3 separate regions of the Homo sapiens genome follow, and regions 2 and 3 are each linked to region 1. Evidence: fine-mapped expression QTL. A gene starts in region 1. Each other region holds a variant in brackets. All regions are shown on one strand. Distances are from middle to middle.

Region 1 (5,000 bases):
TCAGCAGAGGACCCTTGTTTAAACCCTAAGTGCTGAGAAATCTTACAAGAGTTTTCAAGAGCCACAGATTCAGTTGCAGGAGTAGGAGATTTCGCTTTATCAGAAAGCAATAAACCCATCTAATTTCCTAAATCTTCAGCCACAGAAAGCGTGGAAAGATGGTTTGCTCATTTTAGCAGTTTTCAACCACACAACCCTAACTCTTTTAAAGTTTAATTACTGGTTTACCCCTGCCAAAATAAACATGGCCTCCTGCAGGTTTGCTACATTTCAAACTGCACCTAGAATCTCCTCGTTCCTATGTAACGTTCAAGTTAATGAAGTATTATGGGTTGTATGAGAAAAATTAAAACGGTAATAGTCAAGGGTTCAGAAAGCCTAGAATTTTAGAAAATCCCTCACTCCTTTCCAAGATATTTGATTCTTTTTCATGGGAATACACTTCTATCATCCTATATACTCTCTGGGTACATCATTCTCACCAACAGTCATTAAAATAACTGAATCACAATATCTTTCAAATCTTGGGGGAAAACCTCTGTTTTCCTTCATATTAATTTGTAAATCAAATTGCATCTCACCAGAGTCACTGGATAAGAAAGGAATTGAAGAATATCATTAAAAGCACACTTTAAAGGACTGATTTGTGTTTTGTGAATTAAATTTCATGATTCGTTCAAGCAAACATTAATAAAAGTCAAATGGAAAGACACTCCAGCATGGTTTTCATCACAATGTAAAGTCTTTCCTCAAAATATAAATGAAACTATGTGACTATGAATTCACAAACACTCATTTTGCTAAATGTACCACATAAAAAATTTTCCACCCAATGCAACAGAATCAGCCAGCCACTCGAAGCCACTTACACCCACTTTGCCTTCTGGACTATACATTTGGTACTTGGGTGTATTTATTTATTTAGGCTCCTTAAAAAAGCCTTCTTTATCATTTGCATATTTGATAGAAACTAAAGATACACCACCTATGAACGCAGGCAAACAGCCCTATACCTGTGTTATGACAAGTTTTGCTACAATAAAGCACAAGGAAACTTCTCGACACACACCCAGTTCCCCCGGCCTCCTGCACTCCACTTACCTAGAAAGAGGATCGTGCCCAGAACTAGGGTGCCACCGACAAACACGACCAGGGCAATTCGAGTGCCTCTGTTGGCCTTCTTTCCAGTCTCCACGCTGCTCCCTGTTTCTGCTTCCATCAGAAGGGCCGTAGAGAGCACACGAGAAGAAAGTCACTTTTCGTGGTTTGGTGGCTGGTCTCAAGAGCGAGGCGTTGACATCCAAGGCTTTCTTGCTCTTCTACTAATGGACAGCTTAAGAAACTGCCGTCAGGAAATCTCCCCTCGCCACCCTTTCTCAAATAATTCTTCACAAATGAAAATTATAAAAACCAAAATATTGGTTGCCTTGGCTTTCCCCCTGACTAGACAAAACAAACAGTGTTGCTTTATCTTGGTGCTCTCCCTCAGCAAAGTCCCTGTTTGGCAGGCTCTTCTCTCAAGCGTTCCGAGTATATATGTTTTACTATGTTGCTGAACAGATGTTTTAGCTATTTAAATGTATAGTCACTTGGGGAGGAAAAAAACAATTGTTTTATCAAAACTGGATTCTCGTGAAACTCCCCCAAATCATGATAAGTTAGGTGGCCAGGATTCACCGGACCCACTTCAAGATCTCAATTAATCATGTAATTCTGTTGCAAGAATCATTCTGCTTGCCTGAATTGTCTTCATCAAAGATATTCTTTCAGTGTGTGAGTCCCTTTTTAAAGCCTTCTAAGAGTTCCTAGGATATCCTGGAGCATTTTATTTCAGGAACTTTGTGTATGATAGCATGTGCCAAAAATCAGTCATAGTCCAGTGCAGTGCAAAGTAGCAATTAAGACAACCTACAGAGGCTGATGGTTTGAACTGGAACTTTTTCTTAAAGGAAGGAGAAAAAGCACTTCCTCTTTGTGGTACTAAGAAGTGTACAAAAAAAAAAACCCACAAAAAAACACAAGTGCGTGAATTAAGTTTATTAGCAACTACAAAAGATATGATGAAAAATTTTTTCCTTGTGTGTTTTTGATGAAAAGTGCACCATGTGTTTTGTCTGCCACTCCTACTGAGGCAGCCATTCATTAGGATGTTTTTGTGTTTACATAAACTGTCCACTTCAGCAGATTCCCCAGGATGAATTCAAAGGCAATTGGTTTCAGGCCGGGCGTAGTGGCCCACGCCTGTAATCCCAGCACTTTGGGAGGCTGAGGCAGGGGGCTCGCTTGAGGCCAGGAGTTCGAGACCAGCCTGGCCAACAAGGCGAAACCTTGTTTGTACTAAAAACACAAAAATTAGCCGGGCATGTTGGTGAGCACCTGTATTCCCAGCTACTCAGGAGGCAGAGGTGGGAGAATCGCTTGAGCCTGGGAGGTGGAGGTTGCAGTGAGCCAGATCGCGCCACTGCACTCTAACCTGGGTGACAGAGAGAGAGACCCTGTCTCAAAAATAAACAAACAAAAAACAAAGGCAGTTGACTTCACTGGAAAGACTGATGAATGACTGGGTCTTTGATATTTTTGATTATGATAATGATTTAAACGATAACAATGTGCTTTCTTCATGGGGAAGGGCAACTGATATTCCAATGCTACCACTGAAATGATATAGATTTTATTATCCAAAGATATAGATATCGTTAACTCACAACACAATTACTACCTACCTGCTTTTGTTTTGCTGGAGGTCATAGGGCAGTGGGAGTGGGGGTGGAGAATTCAACTATATCTAGAAACCAGTAGAGCAATTATCTCAATGCAAAACTTGTGCGCATGGCTTTAGAGGTGACACAGGAGCTCAGCAGGTGCTGATGAGCTCAGTATAACATGGCCACACATTCATGGTCCTGTCTGGCTTGTCTTGGTCAGGGCTTAAGCCCTTAGCATGGGATTCTCTCAAGTTTTGGGGCTTATTCCATAATATACCTTACTTTCTGCTCATTTCATGTTGCGCCAAAGTCAGGGGGTCACAAGCCTTTGTCCAAGTTATGACATCATGGTGTGTTGTAGTTATCCTGTGCTCATTGGCTGTTGACATTATTTTGTTGCTGTTATTCCATAACACACCCTAGCAGGACTTTGGCCCCTAGTATGGGATTCTCCCAAGAGTTTTTGGACCTCACTCTAGAACACATCTTAGACCATGAGTTCCACAAAGTCAGGAACCATGTTCAATGTTGCAGCTCCAACATCGACATTTCCTGGCCCTTCACAGTGAAAAGGAGAGCAATAAAAATCATACAAGTTAGCCCTAGCCACTTACTCTTAACAACCAGCTTCAGCTGGGCGCAGTGGCTCACGCCTGTAATCCCAGTACTTTGGGAGGCCAAGGCGGGTGGATCACGAGGTCAGGAGTTCGAGACCAGCCTGGCCAACATGGTGAAACCCTGTCTCTACTAAAAATACAAAAAATAGCCGGGCGTGGTAGCAGGCGCCTGTAATCCCAGCTACTCAGGAGACTGAGGCAGGAGAGTTGCTTGAACTCAGGAGGCGGGTTGCAGCGAGCTGAGATCATGCCACTGAACTCTAGTCTGGGCGGCAGAGCAAGACTGTCTGGAAAAAAACAAATACAAAACAAAACAAAACAAAAAACCAACTTCGGGGCCAGAAGTGGTGGCTCACACCTGTAATCCCAACACTTTGGGAGGCTGAGGTGGGCAGATCACTCTAAGTCAGGAGTTCGAGATCTGCCTGGCCAATGTGGCGAAACCCTGTCTCTACTAAAAATACAAAAATTAGCCAGGTGTGGTGGCACGTGACTGTAATCCCAGCTACTCGGGGAAGCTGAGGCACAAAAATCGCTTGGACCTGGGAAGTGGAGGCTGCAGTGAGCTGAGATTGAGCCACTGCACTCCAGCCTGGGTGACAGAATGAAACTGTGTCTCAAAAAAACCAAAAGGCCAAGGTGGGTGGATCACCTGAGGTCAGGAGTTCGAGATCAGCCTGGCCAACATGGCGAAACCCCGACTCTACTGAAAGTACAAAAATTAGCCGGAGGTGGTGGTGGATGCCTGTAATGCCAGCTACTCGGGAGGCTGAGGCAGGAGAATCGGAGAATCACTGGAACCCGGGAGGCGGAGGTTGCAGTGAGCTGAGATCGCAGTACTGCACTCCAGCCTGGGCAACAGAGCGAGACCCCATCTCAAAACAACAACAACGACAACAACAACAACAAACAACAAACAACCAGCTTCAGCTTCAGGAACCTCACATGCTAATGTCTGCGGGGGGAGGAAGGGTGTCATCTTTCAAGGCCCTAATTATTCCTTCTCAATGCTCAACTAAAAGTGATACTTCATATAGGCATAGCACATTCGCTTTAACCTCATGGTAAATCTACATACTTGATAGCAAAGGTATTTTAACTCTGTTTCACAAATAAGGACACTGAGACCAAGGAATGGCCTCAGGTGGCATGGGAAAATCACAAATGGATAGATGGGGGATGGGATCATTGCCATACATGGCATGTCTGCTGCTTGACAAAGCTTCCTGTGCACAGCGAGAGGACAGTCACCCAAGCACGACACCAGGACTCACTTCTTTCCTCTTTCCTTCCTCCTCTCAATCTCCTCACAACTTTCAGTGTCCCCACTGACATTGAATAGTGGCCGTGAGTTCCTAGCTGGAGTAGCCTTCACCTGCCTTGAACTTGCAATTCCCCCAGAGGTGAGGGCAATTTGGGGATTCCCTGAAGTTATACCTACCCATCACTTACCGACAGGAATTCATTCCTGAACGGTCAACTGCTGAGTGAAAAGCCATTAAACCAAAAAAAATACTTTCATTAATTGTAATAGGAAAATTATGATGCATTCTATCCCAAACTAAGATATGCAAACACAGATAGAAAAATGTATTCATTTAACTTAATTGTAAATTTAAAAATAACTGAAAGACTGCCATTGGATTGTTTGTAACACTAAGGATAAATGCTTGAGGGG
Region 2 (5,303 bases), 82 kb before region 1:
AAGGTTTTCATCACTAATCATCAGGGAAATGCAAATCAAACCATAATGAAATAGCACTTCACTACCTGTTAGGATGGCTATGATCAAAAATTTAAGAGGTAAGTGTTGGCAAAATATTCCTGGAAAAAAAGGAAACGCTCATATACTGTTGGTAAGAATGTAAACTGGTACAGCCATTATGGAAAATAGCATGGAAAATCTTCAAAAAAATAAAAATAGGACTACCATTCAATCCAGCCATCCCACTACTGGGTATATATCCAAAGTAAGTAAAATCAGTATATGGAAGAAAGATCTGCACCTTCATGTTCATTGCAGCATTATTCATAATAGCCAAGATATGGAATAAACCTAAATACCCTTCAATGGATAAATACATAAGGAAACTGCGATGTGTGCATGTGTGTACCACACAATGGAATATTTGGCCATAAAAATGAAGAAATGAAGAAAATCCTGCCTTTTGCAACAGCATAGATAAAGCCAGAGGACATTATGCTAAGTGAAATAAGCCAGGCACAGAAAGACAAATATTATATGATCTCACTTATATGTAGAATCTTTATAAAAGTTAAAATATAGAAGCAGAGAGTAGAACAGTAGTTGCCAGGGGCTGGGGGCAGGGAAATGGGGAGATATTGATCAAAGGGTACAAACTTCTAGTTCTAAGATGAATAAGTTATGGGGATCTAAAATATGGCATGGTGACTATAGTTACTAATAATGTATTGTATACTTGAATTTGCTAAGACAGTAAATCTTAAGTGTCCTCATCCCCCACCACCACACACACAATGGTAAATAAGTGTGACAACAGATGTGTTCATTTGATTGTGGCAACCATTTCACAATGTATGTCAAATCATCATCTTGTATACTTTGTGTTTGTTTTGAGACAGAGTCTCGCTCTGTCGCCTTGGCTGAAGGGCAGTGGCGCGATCTCGGCTCACTGCAACCTCCGCCTCCGGGGTTCAAGCAATTCTCCTGCCTCAGCCTCCCAAATAGCTGGGATTACAGGTGCCTGCCACCACGCCCAGATAAATTTTGTATTTTTTTTAGTAGAGATGGGGTTTTACCATGTTGGCCAGGCTGGCCTCAAACTCCTGACCTCAAGTGATCTGCCCGGCTTAGCCTCTCAAAGTACTAGGATTACAGGTGTGAGCCACTGCGCCCGGCCGTATACTTCGAATATATACAATTGTTATTAGTCAAATGCATCTCAATAAAGCTGAAAGAAAAAAAAATACACCCTTTTCTCCAATGCAGTTGAAACAGATGGAGAAGAACACGTTGCCACAGTGATGAGTCCCTCTTTAAATTCAATACCTCAAACCTCACCTACATCTGGACATGCCTGCCCTCAAGCAGCTATACTACATTCCCTCAGTTTATTCACTCTCCCACTCCCCTGGAAAACTACACACCTTCTCTCTCCTCTAACCTTCAATACCTGCTAACTCATCCTCACTCTCGTTTGATGACCTTTCTTCCTATTTCACTTAGAAGTTGAAAGAATCTGAAGACAATACCCACAGGCCACTACCACCTGGAAGGCTGACATTAGCCTGTTGAATATACCCTTGTCAGATCTGGCTAAATTGCCATTATTTTTTGCTAGCTGGGGAGTACCACTTACCATTTCCTTCTTATCTTCCTGGAAGTACACATCTACAAACATCTTTCCAACAACATAAGGGAGGGCACTTTCAATAAAGTTTACACATTTGTCCCATTGAGGCAGCAAAGTTGTGGTCCCCTGGATTACCTGTGGGAGATAATTGATCCAGATTAAACTTCATTTGGATAAAACCCATGGCTGAAAACAATTCAAACAACCTGAAGAAAACAGTCTACAAAACACTGCACACCCTAACCCATATATATGCATCAGATAGTAGAGGCAAAGGTAAAATAGTTGAAGAAAAAAATTCTGCTTGTCCCCATTATATTTCAAACTAAATGAAAATGTTTTAGGCCGGTCAAAGTGGCTCACATCTGTAATCCCAGCACTTTAAGAAGCCCAGGTGAGCAGATCACCTGAGGTCAGGAGCTCGAGACCAGCCTGGCCAACATGGTGAAACCCCGTGCTTACTAAAAACACAAAAATTAGCCGGGCACGGTGGTGCATGCCTGTAATCCCAGCTACTTGGGAGGCTGAGGTGGGAGAATTGTGTGAACCCAGGAAGCGGTGGTTGCAGTGAGCTGAGATTGGGCCACTGCACTCCAGCCTGGGCAATAGAGTGAGACTCTGTCTGGAAAAAAAAAAAAAAAAAAAAAAAGAAGAAGAAGAAAAGAAAGTGATTTAACAGTTAAAATAATATATGTATCCTTTCTTCCCAATTTTCCCCATTAAACAAAGAATCTGGACAATGGTATCACTTTTCTGCAGTCAGCAGGGACATGAGAGGATGCTATCCAAGTGTCTAGATAATATTTAATATCTCCTGAGAACTAAAGTTCCACTAAGAAGGTCTAGAATCAGTGGGTGATCAAAGTTCCTGCCCAGTGAGGGTTTCCTTGCTCCGAGTAGCACACTCAACAAGGCAGACCAGAAGAACATGGCCCACCATGAACAACACAGGGAGCATATTTACATTGTGTCACAGCAAAAAACACACTGATAAACAAGCAAAATACAGATGTAAATGCTTTGCCCATCTGTCCCAATTATACCATTGCAAGAAAACATTTACAAACAAGTAAGAAGTTTCCCAAGCAGGACCTGGGTCAGAGGTTTACTCTTGGGAATAAAAGCAGAGAAATAAATATAGTGTAAGTTGCCCTTGGAAGCTGGGGGTGCAGGCAGGGAGGAAGGGAGGCCCTGAGAATGGTGGTCAGAAGTGTCCTTTGCACAATGTTAGACCCAGGTTGTTTTGAGGAATGGGATTAAGGCTTAATTTCATCTATTCTTCCTCTGATTTCTGGTAACCTCTCTCAGAGGTAAGCGATGAATCTATTTTTAAAACCTCTAGAGAAAGAGATCCTACAACCTTCTTC[G/A]GCAATTCAATATTATATTTAGCACTTCGTGCTCAAGAAACATCCCCTCATACCTAACCTTAAATGTTCACACAGTGCTTCTTACACCTCTCTCATTCTCTTCACAGTAGGGGTGGAAAGCAGCTGGGCATCATCTTTTATGTGATTCGTAGCAGTTAAAAATACACACAAACACACACACACACACACACACACACACACACACACACACACACACACAAAACCTACTTGTTTTGTATCTTAACCCATCAATATGACCTAAATATATATATAGTTGTTTTATGCTGTTCTCTGTAAAAAAGACTTTTTTTCTTTTTTTTGAGACGGAGTCTTGCTCTGTTGCCCAGGCTGGAGTGCATTGGTGCCATCATCTCAGTTCACTGTAGCCTCCGCCTCCCGGATTCAAGCAATTCTCCTGCCTCAGCCCCCCGAGTAGCTGGGACCACAGGTGCGTGACACCATGCCCGGCTAATTTTTGTATTTTTTGTAGAGACGAGGTTTCACCACGTTGGCCAGGCTGGTCTCAAACTCCTGACCTCAATTTGCCTGCCTTGGCCTCCCAAAGTGCTGGGATTACAGGTGTGAGCCACTGCACCCAGCCCTAAAGTAACTTTATATGCTAGTGACTTTATAGGGTCAAAGCATATCCAAAATAATTGCACTACTCTTCCAGAGTAATGGCCCACTAAGAATTTCTATACTTATTAGTTCCTCTAATAACTAAAATGCCTCTTGAATGAAATCATAGCTTATAAGATTCACCATTCACTTAACTTTAAATTGATAGAAAAATAAAAACTGTTTCAAAGATACAAAATCCTTACGGCCTCTAGTGGTAGGAGAATTAGTCAGACATAAGCCTCAAAAACAAAGGTGAGAGTAACATGGGTACAAACTGGGAGACGAGCAAGGGTGGGAGAGAAGCAAAGGTTAAAGAGCCAGGTGAGGCCCGGCACAGTGGCTCGTGCCTTTAATCCCAGCACTTTGGGAAGCTGAGGTGAGAGGATCACTTGAGCTCTGGAGTTCAAGACAAGCCTGGGCAACATGGCAAGACCCCATCTCTAATAAAAATAAATAAATAAAGAGCCAGGTGAGCAGGTGGAGGAAAACCATCTCAGACAGTTGAGCAAGAAAACTAAATTGGAGCCTCTTGGACCTAGCAGAGGATAGATTCAAAGATGGAAGGTATAGGCAAAGTTTAAGACAAAATTCCATTTCCAAATTGAAAATGAAGTTCTACCATCCAATATCTCTATCATGCACATTTTAAATATTCAGAATACTGAGAATAAAAGATAGTTACAAATATATCACAAAGAAATGTTAAAACTATAATTACAGTGACCCAGTTAAAAACTCTGGGGGAAAATGGGAATACACTAATAAGACGGGGAAGTTTGAAAACAATGTGTGGCCTCAAGTATTTCTCTAAATATCTTTATATAACCCATCAAAGTAAAACTTGAGTGTACCTTACCATATGTAATTTATACCTAAATAAAAATAAATAAGGCACACACACACACACAAAAACAATAGAGCTTGGGCTACAAACTCCCCCTGTCTAATCCCTAAAGATGATTTTTACTGGATCAGTTAATATATGGACTATTCCAGCATGTAAAGTTATCCAGCGATGTAACACTGCAATCTTCTTAAACTTACCCTTGAGAATTCCAGCCATCTATACTGAAAGCGCCTGCTAAGGTTTGGAATTCTGGAATAAACCATTCTCCACACCAAATAGTTGGCAATGGTCCTGTTAACAGAGAGAGATGCCCATTTATTGTATTTTAGGTCAATATCTGATGCTCTGCAGAACATCTTGAGAGAAACAGTTGGCAAAGCTCCATCGAGGGACCTCTTACTCATACAAAAATGCAGAACTTTCACTTGAGAAATGACATAAGATGATACAATGTCAATAAGCACAACCAAAATTGGCTTGCTTTTCACCACCTAACAGAGATAGATGAAGGAAAGATTCCAGCTCCAGCCCTCAGAGTGAACATTTTACTTTCACTCTCAGGGTATAAAGTCCACTGTTACACAGCCTTTCGTGTCTGGAAATTGTGAGTACCTTCAAATTACAGCAGATCCTCGAATAACATCATTTCATTCAACATCCTTTTGTTATACAGTTGATAAGGAAAAAACCAATTCTGGGCCAGGGTCACTGTCTGTGTAGAGTTTGCACATTCTCCTCAAGTCTGCACAGGTTTTCTCTGGGTGCTGTGGTTTCCTCCCACATCCCAAAGATGTGCCTGCTAGGTTAATCGGCGTGTCTACACATTCCCAGTGTGAGT
Region 3 (5,000 bases), 100 kb before region 1:
CAGTCAGCAACGAGTATCTTAGCTAGTATAATAGCTCTAGCCCATTGGAAAAGCTCCCAGAGCCCATGTGGAACACGCACTAGAGGGATGAGGGAGCGGGGGCCACACACAGCAACTCCCATCAACTGTTGGGTGAGGACTTCTGAGGAAGGTGTGGTCATTCCCCGTCCTTTGGGCCCTCTTTATGAGTAGCAAAGCAGGCTGTAGCAGGGAGAGAATGCTCTTGGCCAAAATGCAGGAGGCTGCAGTTGGAAGTCAGGCAGGTGTGCTGTGAAGTGGTAAGGACAAGACAGGGGTTCCCAACCCTTTTCACGCAGCAGAATCACCAGGTAAAACACAAGGCACTGAGCCCTACTCCCAGAGCTCAGCAGGTGGGGATGTGAAAATTTGCATCTCTAATGAGTTCCCAGGGACCACTGCTGCTACTGGTCTGGAACCACACCTTGAGAACCACCAGGCTCCGGATATAAGCAGAGCCCTGACCGCATACCTGGGAGAAGTCCAGTACCTAGGCCTGGTAGAGCTTAGAGACAAAGCCAAAGAAGTGGGCTACACCTCTGTTTCGCCCTCTGCAAGAAAACTCTCACCACCTCACTCAAAGCCTGTGTGTGAGAGTCACATGCCAATAAATTTAGGACCATTCAGCCGACTTCTCTGCACCTGCTGTGGCCAAGGTTAAGGCCACTCCCTCAGAGCATCATTAGGATGCCACCTCCCTGTGAGTCCCATCCTGCTATTTTTCTTTGGATGTGACCTGACAAACTTAGGTCCCAGGGGCAAAGAGCACAAACAAACAAATAATTCCGAAGGGATCCAGCTTTTTGGCTATATAGTCAAATCCAGCTGGAGATAAGCCAAGCTCAGGAAGTTGCTCCTCCTGATCTGACGCTCTCCTGCCAGGTCTCAGTCAGAATCCTGATGTAGCGACCTTGAGATCCTCCTCTTCTACTCTGGCAAGGGCAAATCCTCCAGAAGACACCCCTAAAATCATTATTTTATCACCTGACACTCATTCAACAGCTGTGGTCACCAGAAAAATAACAGATGCCCTGTCCTTTGCTGCTTATTTACAATAAGAGCACATGCTTGCAGGGAACAGAGAATCCTAAACAAAAAGCGGTGCTTATTTCACGATACTAAATTTCCACTTGAAACCTACACCATCAGTTTCACAATACAAAAACTACTCGTGACCTCTTAAGAGATGAGCAGGAAAAGGCAGGGAGACAGAGAAAACAAATTTACCCTTCACGGGAGCAGAGGCATCCTCATTTATCTTTTACAGTGAACACCCCTAGCAAAGAGTACAACAAAGCCACATCCACACACTTCCATTTTGAGACGAGGTCATTGCTACAAAAGCCAAGGTATTAGGCCTCAGAACACTGCAGCTTTCTGTACCTGCCCGGTTCAGGAGGTCGGTCACTATGGAATGCTGAGGTTAACACTTCTTAGGAGGCTCTGTAATTAGCTGCGGTCCAGAGCTTCATGGTGAGGGAAAGAAAAGCTTCTCCCTTTCACAAATCAGAACATTTTTCCAGCTTTCCCAATGGGTTGCCAAGTGACTCAGCATTGGCCCAGTGTGGGCACTATTATTGATGAGAAATCTTCCGCCTGGGTGATACACTGCATACAACACATGCCCAAAGAACAGTGCCAAGTCATACCAGGAAGAGCAGGCGAGTTATTCACCTCCACTTCAAATGCAGGCAAATCCTTTCTTAATGCAGGGGCTACTCAGTATCAGAAAGACAAAACCCTAAGATAGTGGGAGATTTCCATCTAAGATTCAAGGAATTATTAGGCAAAGTCTCTCCTTTCTTGTTGACTATTAAAAGGCAATCAAATCGAGGACAGCAGAGAAAAAGGGCAAGAAATTTTTTTTTTTTCAAAAACAACGCCGGAGTAGAAAGCTGCATAAAAGCTTTCAACGCCGCTAGTGTTCTTTGTGAGTACCACGAGCTCCACCCAGAGGTCATTTTAAGAACTGCATGTTCATTTAATTTTGAGGGGAAAAAAAAAAAAAAAATTTACATCTTCTGGGGTCCAGGAAAGGACCCACTTCAAAGAACTGCTGAAATTGCTTCAACAACATCCATCTTTCTTGCATTTCGTTAAAGAAACTTCTCTGAACTCTGAAATGCAAGATACAGTCGGGGAACTTTGTGAGATCCAATTTGCCTTTGATATTTGTACCTGTCGTGGAACTAGCAGAGTTCCTGGCAGGTTGAACTCAGCTCAAAGAAAGCAGAGTGTTCAAAGAACGCTTTTAGAAGAAAAACTGACAGCTCTCATTGAAATAAAATAGAAGACTGGAGAGCAACTCGGGAGGCAAACAGGAACATGTCTAATATTAGAAGAACTGAGAATAGTCCTGCTTCAAGAAGGACCCATGGGCCACTTGCCGAGAAGGGCCAACTGTGAGGCACCCACTCCCTTATGCCACTCAGAAGAGCTCCCTGAGGCAACTGCAATCCACACTGCTCAAAGAACTGACTGCACTTCCCAGAACATTCCCCTGGCATCCAGCTATTCATAACACATTACCCCCAACAC[C/G]TATACATACACACACACTCCACCCCACCCTCCACCCTGGTGGTCCTGTACTAATTCATGCAAGCACCTCTTCGGTTCATGTGGGGTCAGGCGAGGATAAAGAGCCCTTAATACACTAAGCGCTCAACTGCCCAGGGCAAGACACATCCTGTTCCACATACCACAAGCTAGCTCAGCAAATAAATGAAGCCTTCATAAAACAACAATATGTTGGTGTTGAAAGTTGTCTACCATCTGGAGAGTTTCCCATCACAGCCCATGTGCTCTTGCCTTCATCAGCCTGTGCCTTATGTGACTGAGGACAGCTTTGACAGATTTTTGAAGGGGAAACAAAAAATCAAACCTACTCTTTGTCTTCCTCCAACGCTGCCTTGCCACCCACCATCCCAGTTCTTCCTTCATTATAAACACTGAACAAACGCCTTTTCACATCTACTGACAAAAGTATCTATGGCAATGTTTATCCATCTCCAGTACCATGAGTTTAAAGCACTAGAAAATATCCTTGCTAAAACTCTACGTGTTCTCATTTCAACAAGGTTAAGCATTCCCAGAACGCTGAGGCAAAAATATTTGTGCTCAGTATGACTCAGTATGACTCCAGGCAGTGTTTCCCCAGACCTGCCTAGTGATAACAATCACCCGGAGACTGGCTAAAGTGACAGCTGTTCAGCCTGCATCCATGATCCATTAACCCAGGCCTTGCTGGGAAGGGGCCCAGAAAGCCAGAGCGTCCAGGCAACCCAGGTGATTGTTATACTCAGGAAGCTTTCAAAAATACCTCTAGATACAAGAAATGCTCAGCTGCAGAGAAGCATCCATCAAGAGTCTAGCAGGTATGCTCCACCCACTTGAATTCCAGCTCTATCAGAATCTCTGGAATTCAAAATGGATCCCATTCATTCATTCATTTATTCAGAGATGGAGTCTCGCTCTGTCACCCAGGCTGGAGTGCAGTGGCACGATCTCAACTCACTGCAACCTCCGCCTCCCAGGCTCAAGCGATTCTCCTGCCTCAGCCTCCCGAGTAGCTGGGACTACAGATGCATGCCACCACACCCGACTAATTTTTTTGTATTTTTAGCAGAGATGGGGTTTTGCCATGTTGGCCAGGCTGATCTCAAACTCCTGACCTCAAGTGATCCACCTGCCTCAGCCTCCCAAAGTCCTGGTATTACAGGCGTGAGCCACTGCACCCAGCCCGTTTTCTACTTTTAAACAGCATGGCTGTCAATACTTTTCTCCTTTGTTCCCTTATCGTGTCGCATAGTATCAGAAAATTTTACAAGGCCCAGCAAGTGTCCACTTCTATTAGGAAATACGTTTGTAGTCCTAAGCAATGGTAGAACACTGGTCTGCAGTTTATCAGTATACTATTTGGGTCATTTGTGCCAAATGATGGGTCGGGAAGGAGATATGCTTGGTTACAGGAAAGGATTTGCCCCAGGACATTTGCATGCATCATGCACAGAGCAGAAGGACATGTGGCCAATATGGGTTTTCTTCGTTTTGGTGTCTTAGGGGCTCTTGTTCCAGCTGCTCCCTGTGACTCCCCACTGCTCTGCATTCTGCCATATCCAGTGATGGTTTATGACACAATTCACCAGGCAGCAAGCCATGTGCCTCTTACAGACAGCAATTAGGAGAAAGGAAAGGCCGAATTACAAGGTATTTGAAAATGCAGTTCGAAAAATTCAGGTATTATTTTCTCTTACCTCCTGGTGAAACAAAAATCTATGTATTCATCCAAAAGCAGACAGCTAACTCTGGGGTCATTCAGAGTCAACAGTTCAGTCAATATAAAAACCAACTACACAGTCAATGTCAAGCATGAACATCCATTAAACCAGAAGTCTTATTTTTTTTTCATCAAAAGGAATCCTTACCTTTTCTTTGGCTTTCCTTTTCGTTCCTGCATCCATCCACTCATTTTCTTTCTCTAGCATGTCAATAAAGGCCCAGCGAACGCCCTCAACCAATTCCTCCATCTACAAGAAAATACCCAAAGAGGGAACGTCAAAGCCAAGAAGCTTCAGTCGAGGTTTTCTGGAACAAAATTGGCTTGCATGAGAAATGACTCTTTACTCAACATGGTAAGTAAGGGGTTCTTTCAGCTTGACTCCATGCTCTGGCAACACTTCTTTTTCCAGGAAAATTCCCTTTTTTCCACCACTAAAAGATAACTAACCAGGCCCAGCATGGTGGCTCATGCCTGTAATCCCAACAATTTGGGAGGCCAAGGCAGGTGGATCACTTGAGCCCAGGAGTTTGAGACCAGCGCGGACAACATGGTGAAACCCCATCTCTACCAAAAATATAAAAATTAGCTGGGCATGGTGGCTCATGCCTGTAATCCCAGGACTTTGGGAGGCTGAGATGAGCAGATCCCTTGAGCCCAGGAGTTCAAGACCAACATGGGCAACATGGCAAAACCCCATCTCTAC

Which allele goes with the higher level. Positions count from the first base shown, and alleles are read on the strand shown. Sizes are in standard deviations (SD) of each study's normalised expression.
In carriers of allele G in region 2, the expression in esophagus muscle of the gene that starts at base 1,900 in region 1 tends to be higher than with A alone (moderate effect, 0.50 SD a copy in GTEx).
As copies of C replace G in region 3, the expression in thyroid of the gene that starts at base 1,900 in region 1 goes down (small effect, 0.28 SD a copy in GTEx).

The links. PIP is the estimated chance that this variant, and not a neighbour inherited with it, causes the effect.
Region 2: its variant is fine-mapped to the expression of PHEX in esophagus muscle (GTEx, PIP above 0.99).
Region 3: its variant is fine-mapped to the expression of PHEX in thyroid (GTEx, PIP above 0.99).

Annotation. Positions count from the first base shown.
Region 1 is chrX:22,029,225-22,034,224 of GRCh38, reverse strand. PHEX (phosphate regulating endopeptidase X-linked) reads right to left here and starts at 1,900. Exons shown (of 22, transcript NM_000444.6): 1 at 1,102-1,900. The coding sequence starts at 1,219.
Region 2 is chrX:22,110,920-22,116,222 of GRCh38, reverse strand. PHEX (phosphate regulating endopeptidase X-linked) reads right to left here. Exons shown (of 22, transcript NM_000444.6): 10 at 4,663-4,756; 11 at 1,637-1,765. Among named protein-coding and RNA genes, the nearest start is that of PHEX-AS1, 59 kb to the left of the region's middle. The variant G/A (reference allele first, on the strand shown) is at 2,998.
Region 3 is chrX:22,133,067-22,138,066 of GRCh38, reverse strand. PHEX (phosphate regulating endopeptidase X-linked) reads right to left here. Exons shown (of 22, transcript NM_000444.6): 12 at 4,443-4,544. Among named protein-coding and RNA genes, the nearest start is that of PHEX-AS1, 37 kb to the left of the region's middle. The variant C/G (reference allele first, on the strand shown) is at 2,557.